2 separate regions of the Homo sapiens genome follow, and region 2 is linked to region 1. A link means that fine-mapping ties the variant in region 1 to the expression of a gene that starts in the linked region. Tissue or cell type: whole blood. Region 1 holds a variant in brackets; the other region holds the start of a gene. All regions are shown on one strand. Distances are from middle to middle.

What was found. PIP is the estimated chance that this variant, and not a neighbour inherited with it, causes the effect.
Region 2: it holds the start of GSTP1, and the variant in region 1 is fine-mapped to the expression of GSTP1 in whole blood (TOPMed, PIP above 0.99).

Annotation. Positions count from the first base shown.
Region 1 is chr11:67,444,387-67,452,386 of GRCh38, reverse strand. GPR152 (G protein-coupled receptor 152) reads left to right here. Exons shown (of 1, transcript NM_206997.1): 1 at 1-1,086. The coding sequence ends at 1,075. Among named protein-coding and RNA genes, the nearest start is that of GPR152, 4.3 kb to the left of the region's middle. RefSeq lists an enhancer at 6,126-6,205. The variant T/C (reference allele first, on the strand shown) is at 3,374.
Region 2 is chr11:67,579,539-67,587,538 of GRCh38, reverse strand. GSTP1 (glutathione S-transferase pi 1) reads right to left here and starts at 3,727. Exons shown (of 7, transcript NM_000852.4): 1 at 3,695-3,727; 2 at 3,370-3,405; 3 at 2,969-3,075; 4 at 2,767-2,854; 5 at 2,298-2,401; 6 at 1,328-1,435; 7 at 886-1,150. The coding sequence starts at 3,695. The coding sequence ends at 962. RefSeq lists an enhancer at 779-848 and silencers at 3,348-3,497, 3,815-3,957, 3,508-4,127.

The DNA of each region.
Region 1 (8,000 bases):
GTCCTACTCCTCCGGCCTCTTCCTGCTGGCCGCCCTCAGCCTCGACCGCTGCCTGCTGGCGCTGTGCCCACACTGGTACCCTGGGCACCGCCCAGTCCGCCTGCCCCTCTGGGTCTGCGCCGGTGTCTGGGTGCTGGCCACACTCTTCAGCGTGCCCTGGCTGGTCTTCCCCGAGGCTGCCGTCTGGTGGTACGACCTGGTCATCTGCCTGGACTTCTGGGACAGCGAGGAGCTGTCGCTGAGGATGCTGGAGGTCCTGGGGGGCTTCCTGCCTTTCCTCCTGCTGCTCGTCTGCCACGTGCTCACCCAGGCCACAGCCTGTCGCACCTGCCACCGCCAACAGCAGCCCGCAGCCTGCCGGGGCTTCGCCCGTGTGGCCAGGACCATTCTGTCAGCCTATGTGGTCCTGAGGCTGCCCTACCAGCTGGCCCAGCTGCTCTACCTGGCCTTCCTGTGGGACGTCTACTCTGGCTACCTGCTCTGGGAGGCCCTGGTCTACTCCGACTACCTGATCCTACTCAACAGCTGCCTCAGCCCCTTCCTCTGCCTCATGGCCAGTGCCGACCTCCGGACCCTGCTGCGCTCCGTGCTCTCGTCCTTCGCGGCAGCTCTCTGCGAGGAGCGGCCGGGCAGCTTCACGCCCACTGAGCCACAGACCCAGCTAGATTCTGAGGGTCCAACTCTGCCAGAGCCGATGGCAGAGGCCCAGTCACAGATGGATCCTGTGGCCCAGCCTCAGGTGAACCCCACACTCCAGCCACGATCGGATCCCACAGCTCAGCCACAGCTGAACCCTACGGCCCAGCCACAGTCGGATCCCACAGCCCAGCCACAGCTGAACCTCATGGCCCAGCCACAGTCAGATTCTGTGGCCCAGCCACAGGCAGACACTAACGTCCAGACCCCTGCACCTGCTGCCAGTTCTGTGCCCAGTCCCTGTGATGAAGCTTCCCCAACCCCATCCTCGCATCCTACCCCAGGGGCCCTTGAGGACCCAGCCACACCTCCTGCCTCTGAAGGAGAAAGCCCCAGCAGCACCCCGCCAGAGGCGGCCCCGGGCGCAGGCCCCACGTGAGGGTCCAGGAACACGCAGGCCCACCAGAGCAGTGAAAGAGCCCAGGGCAGACAGAGGAACCAGCCAGTCAGACAGGTGGGGAGCCGCCGACAGCTTTGTCCTTAAAAACCCTGCTGAGTCCGTCAGGCCTGGAAGGAGGACTTGAGGGAGGGGAAACAATCCAGCCAGAAGTCTCAGGCAGTTCCATGTCAGCGACCCCTGCTCCCGGCCATCAGCCTTTTCTGTGGTTGCTCCCAACACACACACAGTCGCCCGACAGCCCCCAAACCGCAGCTAATGGCATCTTGCGGGGTACTGTCCCTCAACACCCCAGACCCCGCTGACTATTCTTCCCTGGGCCTCAGTCCTGCTGGAGGAAGACAACAGGGGGCACTTTCCCCGGGCTTGACCTGACCTCCCTTTGGTCCTTCCCTCCCTCTCCTCCTCCGGGCCTGGACACAAGGACGTGAAACAAAAAAGTCCCTGAAGAGAAGGGGGCCTCCCAGGAGCCACCAGCCCCAAGCAGGAGCCTAAGGCCCTGGTGAACCACAAGCTGGCCTGGCATGGCCAAGCCTGGTCCACTAGTCCCCTTCCCCCAACAGTCATTGAGGCTGGGGCAGGGCCTCCCTCAGCAAGGCGCCAGAAGAGGCAAGAGCTGCCTAGCCTGGATTCAAATCCAGCTCTGCCATGTCCCAGCTGAGCGACTCTGGAGGAGCAACTTCACCTTCCGAGCTCCCGTGTCATCAGCTGTTGAGAGGATGCAATAAGAAAGTGTGTAAGGCATTACAAGAGCCTGGCGCACGCAGGGGCCTGGTGAACTAGCCTTTCTTCTCCTTCATCCACATACAGGATGTCCCTTTAGAGGCTGGGGATGGATAGAGGAGGCAGTGGGGAGAGCCACCACCTGGCCCAGGCATCTGGGATCTTGTGACCTGTCTGGGCCGTAGACACCCAGGTGGCCTAAGACCAGGAGGCCGCCTCTGTGCCTTGGGGGCCTGCAGGGGACTTCAAAGTCTGATTCTATTTAAAAGTTCAATTAGCATCCACCTGCTCCCCACCTCCCGTGGAGGGCTGCACAAGATTCTTTGTGGGGGCTGCAGGTACAGAGGGCCCCGATCCTGCCTGAATAACAGCCTCCCTCTGTCTGAGCCCAAGTGCACAGATAGGAAGTTGTCCAAGCACACAGAGCTCAGGGCACCAGTGGGTCTAGGAAGGGCAAAGGCAAAGACGGCCGGGCGCGGTGGCTCACGCCTGTAATCCCAGCACTTTGGGAGGCCGAGGCGGGCGGATCACAAGGTCAAAAGATCAAGACCATCCTGGCCAACATGGTGAAACCCCGTCTCTATTAAAAGTACAAAAATTAGCTGGGCGTAGCGGCGCACACCTGTAATCCCAGCTACTCGGGAGGCTGAGGCAGGAGAATTGCTTGAACCCGGGAGGCAGAGGTTGCAGTGAGCCGGGATTGTACCACTGCACTCCAGCCTGGCGACAGAGCAAGACTCCATCTCAAAAAAAAAAAAAAAAATTAGAAAGGGCAAAGGCTCCCAGAGGTCACACAGCTTCTCTAGGGCAGAACCAGCTCTTCCCTCTCAAGCTGCTGATGCTGCAGAAAAAACTAGAAGTGCTGAAGGTCTATCTTCCAACCCCCACTCCACTTCCCTTTTCCTACCCATCGTCCTCTCCTGGCACCCACCCCACCTGCGTTCTCCTTACCCCCAGTGTTCCAGTCATGCCCCCTTATCCCATTAGCTCAGTATCGTGACCTTCAGCAACTGAGACGCCCTTTCCGGCAGGTGTAAATGACAATGATGTCAGATGTGCAACCCTTCCCAGAGACACCTGCATTTTCCAAATGCAGCAGGCTGTGCAGGCAGCCTAGAGTGATACAGTCAGGTCTGGGTTCTGGTTCCTAACTTCCTTCCTCTCAGCCTGTTTTCTCCTCTGTAAAATGGAGTGATCATGTTCCCCTTGCAGGCTTGGCAGTTCTGATCATTGACTGAGCCCAGGGATGGGAAGTGCTGTGGGCGGTGGTGGTGGTGATACCAGAAGCATAGTCGTAGTGATGGAATTGCGGGCACTGAGGCCCATGGGAGAGAGATTTCTGGCCAGGCATGCATTTATTGAATTCATTCATCCAGTATTTCTTGGGCACTCGCTAGATGCCTTTCTGGCCAGCCTTCCATTCTGGAGCCACTTGGGTGAGGTTAAGGGTTTGCCCTCTTGGCTGGGCGCAGTGGCTTACGCCTGTAATCCCAGCACTTTGGGACCCTGAGGCAGGCAGATCACAAGGTCAGGAGATCGAGACCATCCTGGCTAACA[T/C]GGTGAAACCCTGTCTCTACTAAAAATACAAAAAAAAAAAAAATTAGCTGGGCGTGGTGGTGGGCACCTGTAGTTCCAGCTACTCGGGAGGCTGAGGCAGGAGAATGGCGTGAACCTGGGAGGCGGAGCTTGCAGTGAGCCGAGATCGCACCACTGCACTCCAGCCTGGGCACACAGAAAGACTCTGTCTCTAAAAAAAAAAAAAAAAAAAAAAAAAAAAAGAGTGCACTCTCTGGTGACCATCAGGGGTTGTTTGAATCCTGGCTCCACCACTCACAGGCTGTGTGACCTTCCACAAAGCTCTTAGCCTCTTTGGGACTCAGTTTCCTCGTCTGTAAAATGAGGATCATAATAATGGTACCCATCTTGCAGGAGCGTGAATCCCTATGAAGTGTTCGTGATTGTTAGCCATTAATTTGATGACAGCAGTGGGCACCCCCCGGTCTCACTCAGCCCTGGGACCAATACTGAGCCACAGGCCAGCGCCTGAGTGGCAGATCGCCTGCCCCCCAGGCCTCCCCACCATGGCACTGCCTCCTGTTCCACAAGGGAAGTTCTCACCCTCCCCATCCCACTGCAGTCCACACTCTGAGCGCAGGGCCTGGACTTCGGTCCCCATTAGGGCACTCCGCAGTGCCCTTCTCCCTTTTTCTGGGCAGGGCTCCCAGGGCCTTTTCAGCATGGCAGGCAGATTGGGAAATAAAACCTCAGCATCAGCCACTTGCTTTCAGCTCTGGTCCACACTCCAAACCCTACCTCTTGGGGAGTGGGCCAGTCCCACGTCCAAGGACCCCAAAGGGAATCCCACCCATAATGCGTGATTTCTGTCCAGAAGAAAGAGCAGCAGACCATCACCCTTGGTCAGCCAGAGCAGCGGATGCTCAAGAAAGGAATAAGTGAGGTAGCTGGTACCCCAAAGCCGCCAGCCTGAGGGAGGCGGGGCAGACTCCACCTGTGGGACAGGATGGGGTAGAATGCCTGAAGGGTTTTGCGGAATAAAGAGGAGTTCTCAGGCCAGGCACGGTGGCTCACGCCTGTGATCCCAGCACTTTAGGAAGCCAAGGCAGGCAGATCAACTGAGGTCAGGAGTTCAAGGCCAGCCTGGCCAACATGGTGAAACCTCATCTATACAAATACAAAAAATTTGCCGGGTGTGGTGGCGCATGCCTGTAATCCCAGCTACTCGGGAGGCTGAGGCAGGAGAATTGCTTGAACCCAGGAAGCGCGGGTTGTGTAAACCCCCGAGGGGTTCGCCTTGCCTGCTGCCTAGACAGAGCCAATTCACGCAGAGCCGGCTGTGCAGGAGACTGCAGTTTTATTCTTACTCAAATCAGACTCCCTGAGCATTCTCAGGGAGCTGAGTTTTTAAGGATAACTTGGTGGGTGGTGGGAAGCCAGTGAGCCAGCGGTGCTGATTGGTCAAGGATGAAATCAGAGGGAATCAAAGCTGTCATCTTGCACTGAGTCAGTTCCTGGGTGGGGGCCACAAGATCAGATGAGCCAGTTGATTGATCTGGTGGTGCCAGCTGATCCATCAAGGGCAGGGTCTGCAAATATCTCAAGCGCTGACCTTAGGAGCAGTTTAGGGAGGGTCCGAATCTTATAGCCTCCAGCTGCATAACTCCTAAACCATAATTTCTTTTTTGTTTGTTTGTTTGTTTTGTTTTTTTGAGACAGAGTTTTGCTCTTGTTGCCCCAGGCTGGAATGCAATGGCGTGATCTCAGCTCACCACAACCTCCGCCTCCCGGGTTCAAGCGATTCTCCTACCTCAGCCTCCCGAGTAGCTGGGATTACAGGCATGTGCTACCACACCCAGCTAATTTTGCATTTTTTAGTAGAGACGGTGTTTCACCATGTTGGCCAGGGTGATCTCGAACTCCCGACCTCAGGTGGTCCGCCCGCCTCGGCCTCCCAAAGTGCTGGGATTACAGGCGTGAGCCACCATGCCCGGCCCTAAACCATAATTTCTAATCTTGTGGCTAATGTTAGTCCTACAAAGGCAATCTAGTCCCCAGGCAACAGGGAAGTCTGCTTTGGGAAAGGGCTGTTACCATCTTTGTTTATAAACTAAGTTTCTCCCAAAGTTAGTTCAGCCTATGCCCAGAAATGAACAAGGACGGTTTAGAGATTAGAAGCAAGGGCCAGATGAGGTGGCTCATGCCTGTAATCCCAGCACTTTGGGAGGCCGAGATGGGCTGATCACAAGATCAGGAGATTGAGACCATCCTGGCTAACACAGTGAAACCCTGTCTCTATTAAAAATACAAAAAAAATTAGCCAGGTGAGGTGGTGGGCGCCTGTATTCCCAAATACTCGGGAGGCTGAGGCAGGAGAATGGCGTGAACCCAGCAGGCGGAGCTTGCAGTGAGCCGAGATCGCACCACTGCACTCCAGCCTGGGCGACAGAGCGAGACTCTGTCTCAAAAAAAAAAAAAAAAAAAGAGAGAGATTAGAAGCAAGATGGTTGGTGAAGTTAGATCTCTTTCACTGTCTCAGTCATAGTTTTGCAAAGGTGGTTTCCGTTGCAGTAAGCCGAGATCGCGTCACTGCACTCCAGCCTGTACAACAGAGCAAGACTCTGTCTCCAAAAAAAAAAAAAAAAGAGTTCTCTCAGTGGTCCATGGAGGAGGGTTTTGTGTTAGAGAAAATGGGCATGAAGGTGGGCTCAGCCCCAAGACATTGCCCAGCCACACACCTCCTGCCTACCACATCCCAGGGGACCAGTCTCCTGCTGCCGTCTGGAAGACTCACTCCTTCTCCGGTGAGAGATGCCCTTCCTTCCCTCTCCTTCATAGGTGCCAGACATTGATCCTGAGAATTGTGATTATGAGTATTGTTCAATTCTACATTCAGGGCTGCTGCTCATTCATTCATTCCTCATACATTACTTGATCCCATACTGAGTGTTGGATCTTGTTCAGGGTGCTGGGAATACAGTAGGAAGATAGGCAAAGTCCTTCCCCTCAATTTGCTGACATCCTGGTGGAGGCCGACACAAACCAAATACACCAATAAGCACCTGATGCAACATCAGGCGGCGCTGGAGAACACAGGCCGGGTGGTGGCTCACACCTGTAATCCCAGAGTTTTGGGAGGCTGAGGCAGGAGGATTTTTTGAGGCCAGGAGTTTGGAACCAGCCTGGACAACATAGGAGACCTCCATCTCTACAAAAATAAAAATTAGCTAGGCATGGTGGTACGTGCCTGTAGTCCCAGCTACTTGGGAGGCTGAGGCGGGAGGACTGAGCCCCAGAGTGTGAGGCGGTAGTGAGCTAGGACCGTGCCACTGCACTCCAGCCTGGGCAACTGAGCAAGACCCTGTCTCCCAAAAAAAGAACAATGCAGTCAGGACAAGTAAGACCAAAGAGTGGCTGGGTGAGGAATGGTCCAGGAGAGCCCTAGGAGGAGGTGATGTCTGACCAGAGACCTGAATCGAGTGGGGAAAGGAGCCTTTTTGGGATCTGAGGAAAGAGCTTCCAGATGGAGAGAACAGGATGTGCCCAGGCCTCGGGGTGGGAAGGAAGGTGGGTGGGATCTAGATGATCCTTCTAGCCCCAGGGTTTATAGAGCACTAGGAAAAGCAAGGGCTTTGGACCCAAGCCGATGGGGATTGCATCCGGCTGGATGACCTCAGGCAGGCACCGCACCTCTCTGTGCCTGTTTCCTCAATGGGGTGTGGCAATGGGAATGAGATGGGAGACAAGCCCGAGGTCACCCTCAGACACACAGTGGGGGCCTCTTTTAGCCAGAGACAAGGCTCCTGTGACCTCTGCTCTTCCCCCGCTTCGTCCTCCATCCATCTCTTTCTGGGAAAGGGAGGGTGCCATCGGTCAGCCAGGGCAGTGGATGCTCAAGGAAAGAATAAGGGAAGTAGCCGGTGCCCCAGAGCCGCTGGCCTAAGGGAACGGGGGTACATTCCACCTGTGGAACGGGATGGGGTGGGTCTGGAGAGGCCAGTCTGGGCTCCTTGTCACAGGCGCTGGCTAGAGAAAGAGAGAGGCCTGTGAATGGATCTCCAGGCCTTCGAGGGAGATGGTGGAGAAAAGAAGGCAAGGTGCAAGGGACTCACTGGCCATGGCCCCCTTTCAAATTGTAATAAGAAAGCTCAGCAGAATGCACAGGTGTTTACCCTGAAAAATGGGACTCCTGGGTCTTCCACTCGCTCCATAAACACTGCTATTTTCTGGATGGGCACGGTGGCTCACAACTGTAATCCCAGCACTCTGGGAGGCTAAGGCAGGAGGATTGCTTGAGCCCGGGAGTTCAAGAGCAGCCTGGCCAACATGGTGAAACCCTATCTCTACTAAAAATACAAAAAAAATAGCAGGGTATGGTAGCAGGCACCTGTAATCCCAGCGAATTGGGAGGCTGAGGCAGGAGAATTGCTTGAACACGGGAGGCAGAAGTTGCAGTGAGCCGAGATCGCGCCATTGCACTATAGGCTGGGAGACAGAGCGAGACTCCATCTCAAAACAAAACAAAAAACACACCAGCCTGGGCGACAGAGCAAGAGACCCCATCTCTACAAAAAGTAAAAGAAAAATTAGCCAGGCGTGGTGGTGTGTGTCTGTAGTCCCAGCTACTTGGGAGGCTGAGGCAGGAGGATCCCTTGAGCCTAGGAGGTCG
Region 2 (8,000 bases), 140 kb before region 1:
AGGGTGGAAGGTGAAGGGGAAGCAGGCACATCTTTACAAGGTGGCAGGAGAGAGAGAGCGATTCTCATGCCTCAGCCTCCCAAGTAGCAGGGACTACAGGTAACCGCCACCACACCTGGCTAATTTTTGTATTTTTAGTAGAGACGGGGTTTCACCATGTTGGTCAGGCTGGTCTTGAACTCCTGACCTCAAGTGATTCACCTGCCTCAGCCTCCCAAAGTGCTGGGATTACAGGCATGAGCCACTATGCCCAGCCTAGATAAATTTGAATGCTTTTCTCTTGCTCATGTCTTTAGTTCTCAGGCCCAGCCAAAAAACCCTAAAAGGACAGAGATAAAATTTTGCCTGCCCTACAGCATCTTACTGGCTTAGCTTCTCTGGAGAATCCTAATACAGTAGTGTCATTGCTTGCCTAGGATGCACCAAAACTCACAAGTCAGCAGGAAGCCAGGAAAGCCCCCATCCAAGCAGAATGACCCTCCCACCAACCTGGGCTGCTCAGAGCTACTCAGCTAATCCCCCAGGACAGGGAACTCCTCACATCCCTCCTTCCCAGAATCCCTCATTTCCCTCCATCCTGGAGTCTGTCCATCTGACAGGCACGTGCTGTGCCTAGAAAGCATGTTTCTATGAGACTTTTCTCCTTCTATATACACTGTGTGGTGCTCCAGGACAGTGACCATGGTTATTTCTCTTTGTTTCTCTCTCTCTTTTTTTTTCTTCCTCTTCTAGTTTGTGAGGTTCAGTAAACACAGCCAGGCTGAGGGCTCCAGGAAGCCACTGACTGTGCTGGAGGAGCTGTTTTCTAGTCCTCTGCTCTGCCCTCCCACCGACCTCGAGGCTGAGAACCCCTAAGCCCCGTCCCAGGAAACACAGTGCTCATAGTAGCTCTCTTAGAAATTTTATTGGTCCTGGAGAAAGGAAGGCAAACTCTGCCTCCCGCTCAGAGTCCCCCCAACCCTCACTGTTTCCCGTTGCCATTGATGGGGAGGTTCACGTACTCAGGGGAGGCCAGGAAGGCCTTGAGCTTGGGCCGGGCACTGAGGCGCCCCACATATGCTGAGAGCAGGGGGAACGCATCCAGGCAGCCAGGGGCTAGGACCTCATGGATCAGCAGCAAGTCCAGCAGGTTGTAGTCAGCGAAGGAGATCTGCAGGGCAGGGGGGCCAGGGACTCAGCCAGCGGGAGCAGGCTGGAGGAATTGGGGGCAGAGGGCCTAAGCCCATCCCCTAGGTCTGCTCTGCTTTGCTAAACAAATGGCTCACACCTGTGTCCATCTGGAAGCAGAGGGTGGCGAGGAAGGAACAGCATGGGGCCAGATGCTCACCTGGTCTCCCACAATGAAGGTCTTGCCTCCCTGGTTCTGGGACAGCAGGGTCTCAAAAGGCTTCAGTTGCCCGGGCAGTGCCTTCACATAGTCATCCTTGCCCGCCTCCTGCCAGACACCACCATGTATCATCCTACTCTCATCCCTCCCAGCCCCTGAGACACCCCCGTCTGCCCCAGGCCAGACACCAGAGTCCCAGATTCTCCTCTGCTTGCTCCCCACAACCAGGCTAGTACCAAATCCTGTCCACTTCAGCTGCCAACTCATCTCTATTCCATTCTGCCTGTCCATCCTTGCTGGGTTCTCTCACCAGATGATTGCAAAAGCTTTAGAGCTGGCTTCTCTGGAGGATCCTTCTAGACCTCACATTCAGACACAGCCCTGTTCAGACTTCTCAATGGCCCCCATTGCCCTTAGGAGACTCCAAACCAGTGGGTTCAAGGCCTTCGGGACCTGGGCCTACTGCCCGCCCATCTCTATCTCCTTACCCACCCGACACAAATGCAAGCGTACACACACACACGCACACACATGCACACGCACGCGCACACACGCTGCCTCTGCTGAACTGGTCCCAGGTCCCCAAATGTGCTCTGTGTCTGCATATTTTCCTCAGCTAAAAGTGCCAGCACCTCCATCCAGAAACTGGCGACAAATCCTCCTCCACCTCTGGCTACTCCAGGAAGCCCTCGCCACCCCAGGAGATCAGAAACCACCAGTTGCTGGAGGTCTCTGTCCTTGCACTCGCCCCCATGACCCGTTACTTGGCTGGTTGATGTCCCAGGCAATAAGGGTGCAGGTTGTGTCTTGTCCCAGGCCCCTGGGCCCCTGGCCCAGAGCTGACCCAGCCCCTGCACCCTGACCCAAGAAGGGGTCAGCCCAAGCCACCTGAGGGGTAAGGGGGGTGAGGGCACAAGAAGCCCCTTTCTTTGTTCAGCCCCCAGTGCCCAACCCTGGTGCAGATGCTCACATAGTTGGTGTAGATGAGGGAGATGTATTTGCAGCGGAGGTCCTCCACGCCGTCATTCACCATGTCCACCAGGGCTGCCTCCTGCTGGTCCTTCCCATAGAGCCCTGGGGTTGGGTGGAGGGGAGCAGGCCGCGTGACTGGGCGCCTGATCAACACACAGTCACTGGGGATGGGCCAACCAGGGGGCTGTCTGTGAGCCCCAGCCTGGGAGGAGGGGAAGAGGATGTGCGTGGAAGGATGAGAGACTGCCACACAGCAGGTGCTCAGAGCTCACCTGACACCTGGGAGGCAGCCTGGCACAGGGCAAGGATTGCAGGCACCCAGGCTTGACCTTGGGCAAACTACGTAACCTCAGTGGGTCTCAGTTTCCTCCACTCCAGAGGGCTGCGGGGCAGCTGATTTAAACAAAAGGGCTCCGGGGGCAGAGGCTTGCCCATGCCTGCCCTGGACTTGGAGGTTCAAGACTCACCAAGGGTGCGGCCCAGGTGACGCAGGATGGTATTGGACTGGTACAGGGTGAGGTCTCCGTCCTGGAACTTGGGGAGCTGCCCGTATAGCTGTTGGGGGAGGCATGGCTCAGGGAGGGGCACTGAGCTTGGGCGTCCCCCGATCCTAGTCACAGCCCCCTAAGGCCCAGCACCCCCTCCCCTTGCCCGGGCATGGTCACTTACGCAGGAGGCTTTGAGTGAGCCCTCCTGCCACGTCTCCACGGTCACCACCTCCTCCTTCCAGCTCTGGCCCTGATCTGCCAGCAGCATGCGCAGGGCCGCGCAGCGGCCTGCGGGGAGGGAGAAGTACGAGATGTGGGGACCGGGCCGACTCCGCCTCGCAGCAACCCGGGGAGGGGTCAGGAGTGCAGGGAGGGAACAGGGAAACAGGTTCCTCCGAAGATTTCACACAACACTGGGGCGGGGAGCAGGCATGGCGGGAGAGGCGGGGAACAGGAAGGAGGCCCGGGGTAAAAGCCACACGACGGAGGGATAAGGGGGTTCGGATCTCTCCGGGTGGGCGAGGGGCTGTGGGCTGCAGCCCCAGCCCCTGCCTCCCTTCCCTGCCAGACACATGCTCCTACCTCGAACTGGGAAATAGACCACGGTGTAGGGCGGCACTGCAGCGAACAAAGAAAAGTTTGCTGGAGCCCGGGGGAGGATGCCAAGGCGCGGTGAGCGCAGTCTGCCCCCCCTCCCCGCCCCCGGGGTCCCATCCCTCCCCGAGGCGCTCCGGGCCCCCTGAAAGCCGCTAACGGCACTGGGGACGTCCTGGGTCCCCTAGGCCCCCGTCCCGGGTCTCGAGGTGGGCGAGGAGCCCTGCCGGGAGCCCGGGCCTGATGCTGCGGGTTGGCCCCATGCTGGGAGCTCTGAGCCCCATCCCCGGGGACGCGGGCCGCGCGTACTCACTGGTGGCGAAGACTGCGGCGGCGAAACTCCAGCGAAGGCCTCGCGGCCTCCGAGCCTTATAAGGGTGGTCCCGCCCCGCTCCGCCCCAGTGCTGAGTCACGGCGCCGGCCGCTCTTCTGGAGGGTCCCGCGGACTCCCGCCGGCCCCAGCCCCGGCGGCCGCTGCACCCCGGGCGTCGGCCGCAGAGGGGCGCCCTGGAGTCCCCGGAGTCGCCGCGCAGCTGGCCGGGGAAGCCTTTCCCTCTTTCCCAGGTCCCCAGCGGGGCCTAGGGAGTAAACAGACAGCAGGAAGAGGACCGCAGCGAAGTGTGCGCAGCGAACTGGCGCGCCGGGACATCGCGGGGGGAAATTCCCTAAGACCGCTGCGATCCCGGAGCTTGCACACCCGCTTCACAGGGCAGGGGAGAGGGGTGGAGGCCGCTTAGAGGAAAGGAAATTGCTTTATTTTATTTTATTTTATTTTATTTTTTTATTTTATTTTATTTTATTTTATTTTATTTTATTTTATTTTATTTTATTTTATTTTGTGTTATTTTATTTTATTTTATGACGTAGTCTCACGCTGTGGCCCAGGCTGGAGTGCAGTGGCGCGATCTCGGCGGCTCACTGCAACCTCCGCCTCTCGGGTTCAAGCAATTCTGCTTCAGCCTCCCGAGTAGGTGGAATTATAGGTGCGTGCCACATCTGGCTGATTTTTGTATTTTTAGTAGAGACGGGGTTTCACCATGTTGGCCGGGCTGGTCTCGAACTCCTGACCTTAGGTGATCTGCACGCCTCGGCTTCCCAAAGTGCTGGGATTACAGGCGTGAGCCACCACGCCTGGCCGTCCAACTTTTATTTGAAGTTCTGGGGTACATGTAGAGGATGTGCAGGTTTGTTACATAGGTGTGTGCGCCATGATGGTTTGCTGTACAGATCATCCCATCACCCAGGTATTAAGCCCAGTATCCCTTAGCTATTCTTCCTGGTACTCTCCCTCCCCAGCACCCCGCTCAACAGGCACCAGTGTGTGTTGATCGCCGCCATGTGACCATGTGTTCTCATTGTTCAGCTCCCACTTATAAGTGAGACCATGCGGTCTCGCTGGTTTTCTGTTCCTGTGTGAGTTTGCTGAGGCTAACGGCTTCCAGCTCCACCCATGTCCCTGCAAAGGACATGATCACGTTCCTTTTAGTGGCTGTGCCTTAGGCTATTTTCTTTGGCTTTGCTGCCTACTTTCTGTTGATTTGCAGATCTCCATTTATTCTAGATATTGATCTCTTGTTGGCTTTAGACATGACAGACAGCTTCTCCTATTCCATCAACTGTCAAGTTTGTCCAAGGAGTCTTTCATGAAACAAAACTCGTTAATTTAAGTGTAATCAAATTCAGCAAGGGATTTTTGTGGTGGGGAAGAGGTTGGTGTTTATGTTGTATCTTTAAAACTTCATTTAATGCAGCCATTAAAAAGAACTAGATCATGTCTTTTGTGGGAACATGGATGGAGCTAGAGGCTATTATCCTTAGCAAACTAATGCAGGAACAGAAATCCAAATACTGGATGTTCTCACTTGTAAGTGGGAGCTAAATGATGAGAACTTATAACACAAACAAGGAAACAACAGACACTGTGGTTGACTCCAGGGTGCAGGATGGGAGGAAGGAGAGGAGCAGAAAAGAGAACTATTGGGTACTCGGCATAATACCTGGGTGATGAAATATTCTGTACAACAAACACCGAAGACACGAGTTTACTTATGTAACAAACCTTCACATGTACCCCCAAAACAGAAATAAAAGTTAAAAAACAAAGAAATTTCATTTAAAAGTCTTTTTTAAGAGACTTATTATCGGGGGAAATTCAGCCCCCAATATTTCACGTGGGTCCTTTCCTATTTTCCCTAAGTGTCGGCTGGCCTGAGAAATAAAGGGAAAGAGTACAAAAGAGAGACATTTTAAAGCCGGGTGTCCAGGGGAGACATCACATGTCCGCAGGTTCCGTGATGCCCCCTGAGCCGTAAAACCAGCGAGTTTTTATTAGCAATTTTCAAAGAGGAGGGAGTGCACGAACAGGGTGTGGGTCACAGAGATCACATACTTCAAGGGCGACAAAAGATCACAGGGCAGAAGGTCACGGCGAAACTAGAATCACTAATGAACTTCCAGGTCCCACTGTGCACGCACTGTCAGGGTTCAAGAGCAGAGAACCGGTCTGACTAGAATTTGCCAGGCTGGAATTTCCTAATCCTATCAAGTCTGGGGGTGCTGCAGGAGACTAGGGCGTGTTTCATCCCTTTCTACTTCTGAATAAAGGCAGGCACTCTCAGGGAGGCCATTTCAGTGGCCCGGCCCTGGGAATGCATTCTTTTCTCAGGGCTGTTAATTATTAATATTCCTTACTGGGGAAAGAATTCAGCGATATTTCTCTTACCTGTTTGCGGTAATAAGAGAAGTATGGCTCTGTCCTGCCCAGCCCACAGGCAGCCAGACTTTAAGGTTATCTCCCTTGTTCCCTGAAAATTGCTGTTATCCTGTTCTTAAGATGCCCAGATTTCACATTGCTCAAACACACAACAATTGTCCTCTACAAACAATTTGTGCAGTTAACGCAGTCATCACAGGGTCCTAAGGCGACATACATCCTCAGTTTACGAAGATGACAGGATTAAGAGATTAAAGACAGGCATAGGAAATCACAAGAGTATTGATTGGGGAAGTGATAAATGTCCATGAAATCTTCACAATTTATGTTCTTCTGCCATGGCTTCAGCCAGTCCCTCCGTTCGGGGTGCCTGACTTCCCACAACATGTATGTTGCCGCAGCTGGTCTGGAACTCTTGGCCCCAAGTGATCCTCCTGCCTTACTTAGCCTCTCGAATAGCTGGGACTACAGGCATGTGCCACCACACCCAGCTAATTTTTGTATTTTTTGTAGAGATGGGGTTTCACCATGTTGCCCAGGCTGTCCTTTTTTTTTTTTTTTTTTTTTTAAATTTTCACCAATGGACTGAGGTCACAAGGAAGCTTTTTAAATTTTTGTCACCTTGGGTTTTCTTTAATTTCACTCTAATTGTCTAGCTTTGGTGCTCTTCCTGGCTTGCCAAGCTGTCTCTCTGGTTTGGCCTCTTGGCCCTTCGGTCTGAGGTTGGTCATCTTTCTTCAGTTTTGAGAAATGTATCTCCATTGTTTCTTCTGAGATGCCCTCTTCTCCGTCTTCTTCCTCTTCCTCCTCCTCCTCCTCTTCTTCTTCTTCTTTCTTCCTTGCACTATCTGGAAAATGGCCCTTCTAATCTATCCTCCTATCACTTTACTGCCTTTTTTTTTTTTTAGACAGGCTGTCACTCTACTGCCCAGGCTGGAGTGCACTGGCACCATCTCAGCTCACTGCAATCTCTGCTTCCTGGTTCAAGTGATTCTCCTGCCTCAGCCTCCTGAGTAGCTGGGATCACAGGTGCCTGCCACCACACCTGGCTAATTTTTGTATTTTTAGTAGAGACAGGGTTTCATCATGTTGGCCAGGCTGGTCTCAAACTCCTGACCTCAAGTGATCCACCTGCCTCGGGCTCCCAAAGTGCTGGGATTACAGGCGTGAGCCACTGCGCCTGGCCACTTCGATGTCATTTGTGTTTCTTCTGGTTTGTCTTTCCTGGGAGAGAGTTCCCCAGCTGATCTCATCACTCACCTCTTCATCCATGAGTCGCATACCTCGTATGATTCATCCCATCTGTTGTTGGCTTTCTTCGATTATTGTTTTTATATCTACTCTTTCTTTTTGTTGCTTTTTGTAACTTCCTATTGCCAGTGCCTTCTCTCATGTCCTCATGATTTCTCTTGTGTGTATTCTCCGTCTGTGTGCTGCACTCATTCAGCGTCAGGGGATGTTCCTGTCCCCTGAGATGTCTCCCCTGGAACCAGTGAGCTTGTGCCCTTCCCTTGGTGGCACTGGTCATTCTCTCGGGTAGTATGCCAGCCTGTGGTTTCAAAGCAAAGGAAGGAGATAAGCACCACCAAACCACAGCCAACCTCTCCCCTTTGCTATCGCTCTTCAAACAGAGCTTGAGGTCAGAGTTTCCCCTTCCGAACCTTGGGAAGCAGCGCTGGGGAAGGTGGCTCCCCATGTTCTAATGTGCTGGTGCTGGGTGTTTCCAGGGGAAGTGTGGGAGGGAGAAAGCCCGCCCCATTCAGTCCCACTGTTCTCCCCAGTGCCTCACCCAGCAGAGGGTAGCAGAGGCTAACTTCGGTTTAGCCTGCACCAGGGTCAGTGTTCAGCAGTGACATCCCCTCAACAACTCCAGAGAGTACTAATAAAGGAACTGAATGCAAACTCC